Linked DNA regions of Homo sapiens. The protein of the gene in region 1 purifies or fractionates together with the protein of each later gene. This does not show direct contact. Each region holds a gene or a part of one and is shown in the gene's direction. Other genes may lie near its edges. The genes, in order: STAC and SAFB.

Evidence for each region.
Region 2: the proteins of STAC (region 1) and SAFB purify together in Homo sapiens (affinity purification with mass spectrometry; one large-scale study listed by BioGRID and IntAct). This does not show direct contact.

Annotation. Positions count from the first base shown.
Region 1 is NC_000003.12:36,484,924-36,488,740, forward strand, and holds part of STAC (SH3 and cysteine-rich domain-containing protein), read left to right. Parts: intron 1-53; coding exon 54-135; intron 136-839; exon of another isoform or gene 840-1,002; intron 1,003-1,210; coding exon 1,211-1,326; intron 1,327-3,817. UniProt on the Homo sapiens protein: Promotes expression of the ion channel CACNA1H at the cell membrane, and thereby contributes to the regulation of channel activity.
Region 2 is NC_000019.10:5,646,860-5,650,676, forward strand, and holds part of SAFB (scaffold attachment factor B1), read left to right. Parts: intron 1-1,156; coding exon 1,157-1,184; intron 1,185-2,129; coding exon 2,130-2,640; intron 2,641-3,066; coding exon 3,067-3,116; intron 3,117-3,817. UniProt on the Homo sapiens protein: Binds to scaffold/matrix attachment region (S/MAR) DNA and forms a molecular assembly point to allow the formation of a 'transcriptosomal' complex (consisting of SR proteins and RNA polymerase II) coupling transcription and RNA processing.

The DNA of each region.
Region 1 (3,817 bases):
TTTTCTCCATCTCCAGTGACATTAACCCCTTGCCTTCCTCATTCTCTCTCCAGCCAAAGGGGTTTCGGCGTTACTACAGCTCCCCCTTGCTCATTCATGAACAGTTTGGCTGCATTAAAGAAGTTATGCCCATTGGTGAGTTGGGACATTGATGGGTTGAGTTGAGTTTGAAGCAGCAAAGTTAACATTAATGGCTACTGTCCTCCCATGGCTGCAAAACCCGTGGGGTATCTCTGTGTGTTTGTTTGGTGGCTATTTGGGGTATGACTGTGTGTTTTGCTGGAAGGGAAACATAAAGTGGACCAAATTCTCCAGGAATTTTCATCCTCTCCCTGATGAAGCTCAGAAAACACCTAAATCCCAAAGGCTACTGATTAGTAATTCCACCATCAGCAGCATGGTGGAGTGGAAAGAACACGGAGAATGGCTTCCCCCAGACCAGGCTCTAAGCCCAGCTCCCTATTGACAACTGTGTGTCTTTGAACAAGTTACTTGACCTGTCAACCCCCACAAAATGAGAACAGCAATTGCTGCTTTTCATAATTGCTATAAAAAATAAATATAGGTTATTCACCCATGCTTAGTAGGAGCTCAGTGAATATATTATTCTCTAATGCAGATCAAAAGATGCCCTCTATTTATTGATAGCTTTGGCTTGGATTCTTCTCTAACAATATCTTTCAGTTTACTTCTATTATTTTTTTTCTCTCTCTGAAAATCTCGACATCTATTTTTGCTTTTTTTAGGGGGGGCAAGTTTTAAACTAGAAATTTATAAGTTAGAAAGCTTTTAATTAGAAATTAATGAAGCCCAGTAGTGACAAGTTATTTCTAAAACAGTTGCCTCCTACTGCAAACTTTGTGTCTCAAGTCTTTGTACCTTGGTGAGCACAGCCTCCCAGTAGAGGAGATAAAGCTGATCCCTGCAAGAACCTGGAAATCAGAGAGGAATAACGAAAGAGGAAATTCAATCAGGAAGAATTCGGGAGCAGAGTACTAGCTGGTACATGGCAGGACCTGCAAATGGGAGCATGCTGGGTGGGGGTGCATCTGTGAGGAACACTTGGCCATGAAAGCCCTGTCTACCCAGAGGCTAAGTTCCTCTGCACAGAGCCTGCTTCTCAGGCGCTGTTCACCCAGGAGATGTGGTAGGCAGTTGGCTGGGTCCTCTCAGATGAGCTTCCTCAGATGAACTTTCTCTTCTGTTGCAGCCTGTGGCAATAAGGTGGACCCTGTCTACGAGACCCTCCGCTTCGGCACCTCCCTGGCCCAGAGGACAAAGAAGGGCAGCTCCGGCAGTGGCTCTGACTCACCTCACAGAACCTCTGTAATTATCCTCTTCCTTCCTCGGTTTGTCTGTGGTGGTCTTGGGCAGAGCGGGCCTCAGGCACTGCAGTATGGGGTATTCCACCTGACTGCCTCATGAGGGCAGGTCTGCAGGGAGTCAGGCACCTGCCAAAGAGAAACCCAAAGTGCTTTGAGCCACTAAGGATTAACTTCCTGTTGTCAACACCAAGGGATTATTTTACTTTCCTGTCCAAAGACCATCCCCTTGGCCTCATGCTCCTTGACCCTTCCCATGGACCCCCTCTCCTTTACCCTCCCACCAACATTAGATAACATATGAGTCAACATACAGAAATGTTTGGCTCAAACAATGGTCAGGAACTTGGAAATCCTGGCTATTTCCAGTTTTCCGTTTAGCTACATTCCAGTTCAAAGACACAGCTATTTCTCACATCTTTTGTCTTTTCTCTCTAAGAGAGGGCACACCTCTTGATTGCACACAAAAACTGCACTCTCAAAGTTACTTGAACTGTGACTCTGTGGGACACTCACTCTTCCAAGCACCTCTCCTAAGTTCTATCTGACTTAAACTGAGTGTTCCATGCATCTCTGTGACCTGTTATCATCATCTTGTCTCTGGTTGTTTCAATCAGAATTTCTATAAATGCTCCAAGATGCCATACAACTCTGCAGCCCATGCTGAAAGCCACCATTCCTCCAGCAAAGAGGCAAGGACCTTCCAGTTCACATGGCCACTTAGGATAGCCAGCTCCTAGTTTCCATTTCCATTGTTGCAGCCCCTGCTGGACTGGAAGCTTCTAGGCAAGACACAGATGAGCCTTCAAATGGTCTGCCCCACTGAGTCCTCTCAACATCAAGTGACTAGGTGGATTGTGGGAAGAGGGGCAGGGCACATGCCTGGGAGGGGTTCTCAGAGACTGAGTTGAAGCAGCTTCCTCATTGGGTGCAGGTTAAGCCACAAGATTGTAGGTAGGTGAATAGGAATGTAGGTCGGGTAGGCAAGTAGGTGGGTTTATAGGTCCTCTATTGGGTGCAGTTTAAGCCACAAGATTGTAGGTAGGTGAATAGGTCGGGTAGGCAAGTAGGTAGGATTATAGGTCCTCTGCCTGATGCCATGTGGCTATCCTCAAAGCCATCTTTAAACTCACTGAAAGCCCTGTTCTTCATGCATCCACTGATTTCTAAGAGGAAAGAACTAAAAATAATTTTTACTCTTTTTCCTTACTGTACATAAAATTGACATCAGATAGTTCTTTCTTCTACTCAGTTAGCAGACATGAATGAAGGGCCTACAGTTTACTAGCACTGTAGGGGACACAAAAGAAGAGGAAGTCATAGCTTTTACCCTTAGAATTCACAACTTATTTCTGAAGACCAAACCAATAGCGAAGAAATTTGACAATGGTGGCATTGTTTACCATTTTTAAAAAAATACACTTTTATATGTCTTATCCCATTTTATTAAGATTGAGAACGTAACATACACGTGTTAAGGATATTATAATGACTGTGTCATATGAGTACTGAAGCATTTCATAGTAAAGATGAAAAATGTTTCACTTCGGTAGACATTGCCTCAAAGCAGTGAGGGGATAATGTGTGTCATTTTAAGATACCTGATGACCTCCTTAGGGAGGAGATCATTGTTATTTGGCATCCACAAGATAATGCTAATTCTTTTACTGAAAGAAGGATAAAAATGGTGCTAAATGTGATGAAAATATACAAAGCATACATGGGTAGGATTTATATGTAAATAAAGGCTGCTTAGGTTGGGTAACAATAATATACATAAAGTGTTTAGCACAGGGCCTGACATAATTGACACTCAATGAATGGAAATTGTTACTGTTCTATATTTTAATTCATTTAAAAATATTTTTTGAGAGATGGGGTCTTGCTCTATTGCCCAGGCTGGCCTCAAACTCCTGGAGTCAAATGATCCTCCTGTCTGAGTGTACTGAGTAGCTGGGATTACAGGTGCATGCCACTGCACCCAGCTGTTTCATTTTCATTACGCATCTAGCCTTAACAGTGTTTTCTTTGAACCTGAATTATTGTGAAGTTAAACAAGGAAGTAATCCATTAACAAGGCAAATATGTTACCTGAGAAGGGCATTTCCCAGAGCCACTCATGCTTGGGCAGTGTTAGAAACCCCTGACTTACTCGAGGGTAACTTCGCTGTTCTGCTCAGCCCATCTCCTTCTCTGATGTGTCCTCCTGTAACTCCTTAAGTTGGAGTGTTCCCAGGGGTCTGCTTTTGCTTGGTCTTCTTATTCTACTCTCTTTGGTTGATCTCTGTCACATTCCTTTAGTTCAAGCACCGTCTCTACATTGATGACTCCCTTAGGTATTTCCTCTTGCCCAAGCACCAAACCAGTCCTACAGATATTGCAAATCAGCAGATTCAGACTAAACTCATATTCCACGAGTGATTAGGTCCTATAATTCAAAACTGAGAAATAATATCAAAGATACCCTTAGTATTTATCACCAGTACTAGAGGTTT
Region 2 (3,817 bases), on another chromosome or scaffold:
GCAGACTCACACTCATACACGGCCTTTGCTCAGAGCCTGTCTCTGCTTCCCACCTGCTGTGTGTCCTTGGGCAAGTTACTCAGTCTGTCTGGTCACAGTCTGTTACTCTGTAAAAAGAAGGGTGCTACCATTAGGACCAACCTCCTGCAACCGATGACGAGTCTGTGTGTATGTAAGGTGCTTACATTTGTGCCTGGAACCTAGTCAGTGCCCATCAGTTGACTGGAATTCCAGAGGAGTGTACCTTGTGTGCACAGGAAACATAAAGGCTGGGGGATCACATCATGTGGAAAAAGCTCCTTTGCTTAGTGGGGCACAGCTGGAGTTGGGTTAGAGGGAAATAGGGAAAGCCTTCCTGAAAGGAGATGCCACTGAGCTGGATACTGAGGGATGTGGATGACTTGGCTGGACGGGGCAGGGGAGGGCTGGGCCTGTCAGGGAGGGAGGTGGCATAGGGATCCATTGGCTGAAGGCTGAAGGCCACAGAGGGACATGAGCTTACTGTGGACACAAGGTGCAGAGAGATGGGATGGGGATAATACAACCAGATGCCACAGTAGGCAAGGATGGCACCAGCCTGAGTGGACAGGGCTTCCTGGGAAGAGTCTGAATGACTTCTAGAACTGGCCTGGTGGGAACACTGATTGGAAGAGGAGATGAAGGAGGGAGGGTATTTACAAAGTTTTTCATGCTGGCACCACCATGCCAAGTAAGAGCAGGAGTCATACCACCTGGGCCCATATTCCCTCAGTCTTTCGAATATCAGAAAGTTGTCGTAGCTTCATTGAGTGAAAAAGTGACTGTTAATGTGCCATGCATTCCTCTAGATGCTAACAGTAGAAAAATGAAAACACTGCTCTCCTTGAATTTGAGAGTTCAATCTAGAGGGTCAGGCGTGCTTATGATGAGTGCCTCACCATGAAGTGAGACCAGTTCCAGGCTCCTGCAGGGGAGACTGAATGGAGGGTGGGCTGAGTGAAGTGGATGCCAGTCTTATGGAGCCATTCCTAGAACAAGCAGGTTCTCCACCTCTTGAGTTTGTGAGTTTCCCTCCCTGGATTTTTAAAATTCCCTCTTTAGTTATTCTGGGTTTTCATTTAAATAAACTGTAGGTGTCATTCATCTGGCACAGTCTTATTTACGTTTTTTCTTGCAGGAAATTGAAGAGCCATCCCTGGAGCCAGGTACTGTTAAATGAAAAACTTACCAGCGGGGGTTTGGAACCATTCTAGTTTTCCACCTTCTCTAATTTGAATTCTTTGATTTTTAAAAGTTACCTTACTATAGTATACATTGTTCTAAAGGTTTACAATCCAAAACCTACCAGGATCATAGAGATTGGAAACCCAGCCATATCACCAGATCTGTGAAAGTGGCTCACTTCTCATTTTACAAAATGTATTGGTGAGATGAAAGTATCTCATGCCTTTTTGAATATCAACAGCATTGAATCATACATAGAGAAAGAGTTCCAGATGCCTCTCTTGAGAGCTAATACCTCTGCACCCACAAAACAGATCTTGTGATATTGGGCAGTAGCTTAATTTTGTTGTTTTTAATTGAGGCAGCTCAGGTAGTGGTAGGGAGATACATTTTAAAACATAAATTTGAGACATAACTGGATTCCAGAAGAGGAAAGAGTGTCTTCATGAGAATTCCAAACACTGTTCACTTTCTGGACTGCAAATATCTCAGAGCACGGATGGAAGAGATTCTGGTTTTCATGTTGGACTGTTCTGTTAAAAGAAATTCAAAGAAATTTGGAAATTGAGCTGTTCAGTGAATGGTGATACATTCAGTTAAGCAACTTGGACTTTGGAAGCTAAATTTGGAAGAGTCATATCTAAACGACGACAGAATGAAGACTGTCAAGAATCAGCCAGAAGGTTTTGGGGGTTAAATCTCTGGGATGCTTTTCTCTTCCGTGTAGCGTAGAGGCTTACCTAGAGGCGGTCGCGGCGCAGGTAGTGTAACCAGTATAACTTTGTGTACCCGCGGGTTTTCCAATCTCTGTGTAGCTAGCAGTTCTCTTCGTGTTAGTGTGGCAGCCGTGCCAGTTCCACATTTGTGATTGCTTTATTTCCCTGGTAATTAAACCTTGTGCCATTCTATTCCTGTTAAATCCGTAGAAAATGAGAAAATACTCGACATTTTGGGGGAAACTTGTAAATCTGAGCCAGTAAAAGAAGAAAGTTCCGAGCTGGAGCAGCCATTTGCACAGGACACAAGTAGCGTGGGGCCAGACAGAAAGCTTGCGGAGGAAGAGGACCTATTTGACAGCGCCCATCCGGAAGAGGGTGATTTAGATTTGGCCAGCGAGTCAACAGCACACGCTCAGTCGAGCAAGGCAGACAGCCTGTTAGCGGTAGTGAAAAGGGAGCCCGCGGAGCAGCCAGGCGATGGCGAGAGGACGGACTGTGAGCCTGTAGGGCTAGAGCCGGCAGTTGAGCAGAGTAGTGCGGCCTCCGAGCTCGCGGAGGCCTCTAGCGAGGAGCTCGCAGAAGCACCCACGGAAGCCCCAAGCCCAGAAGCCAGAGATAGCAAAGAAGACGGGAGGAAGTTTGATTTTGACGCTTGTAATGAAGTCCCTCCGGCTCCTAAAGAGTCCTCAACCAGTGAGGGCGCTGATCAGAAAATGAGGTTTGTTTTTTCTCAGTTTTAGACCAGACGCTATCTCCTTTTCATTGGTCATGTAATGACACACATAAGCTGTTTTTTTCTGCAATTGGCCAGCCAGACTGACGAAATTGTAGTTTTGCTTCTAAAGAATGTTTCGTTTCTCTTTGTGTGTTTTTAATGGGTGATTCAATTCCTTTTCTTTTTCTCAACCTACCATGGTTGTGTTCTTAAATTCTTCCTAATTACCTTTAGCCCAGCAGAATTAATTAACTCCTGTGGGTCTGAAATCTTATGGTTAGGTCAGATTTTCAATACAAGTTTGTCGGGGTATCATTTTTTCAGAACTAAATTTCGGGTAGGTATGCAACCTCAGCACGAATTTTATGGTTTTGAGTTTGTTTCCTCCATGCTGCTTCCTTGTGGAGTGACATTGTCTTTTGTCTCTAGTTCTCCCGAAGATGACTCGGATACAAAAAGGCTTTCCAAAGAGGAAAAGGGTAGGTCACCTCGGCGACACCAGTCCCTTGGAGCATGTATGGCCTGGGCAGTGGCGGGTATTTGATTCTGGTTCATCGCGTGCTATGCTCCTTACCCAGGAGACTCCTGAGACGTTTGTGCAGTCTTTCTCCTTCTCTGCTGTTACCGCTACAGGTTCTGGGTTGTAGGAAGCATACCAGGTCCTAAGAGTTAACAGGCTGATTTGGTGCAGATCCTTGTGTTGGGAGCACATTCATCCTGTAACCCTTCATTAAATGCATTAACTGAGAAATAATTTTACCCTACCAAATTCCTTCTTAATCAGTGTTCTAAAGGAGTAAAAACATGGGATAGATACAGAGCTATACGTGGAAAGAGAAACAGTGCATTGTTGACACCAAGGTTGACTGTTCTGCTACATGGCCGTTGCACACTGCACTTCCTCCTGTAATTAAGCGATCGCTAACTTTTTTTGAGACAGAGTCTTGTTCTGTTGCCCAGGCTGGAGTGCAGTGGCGCGATCTCAGCTCACTGCAACCTCTGACTCCCGGGTTCTAGAGATTCTCCTGCCTCAGCCTCCTGAGTAGCTGGGATTATAAGCGCCCGCCACCACACCCAGCTGATTTTTTGTATTTTTAGTAGACATGGGGTTTCACCATGTTGGCCAGGCTGGTCTCGAACTCTTGACCTCGTGATTCGCCCACCTCAGCCTCCCAAAGTG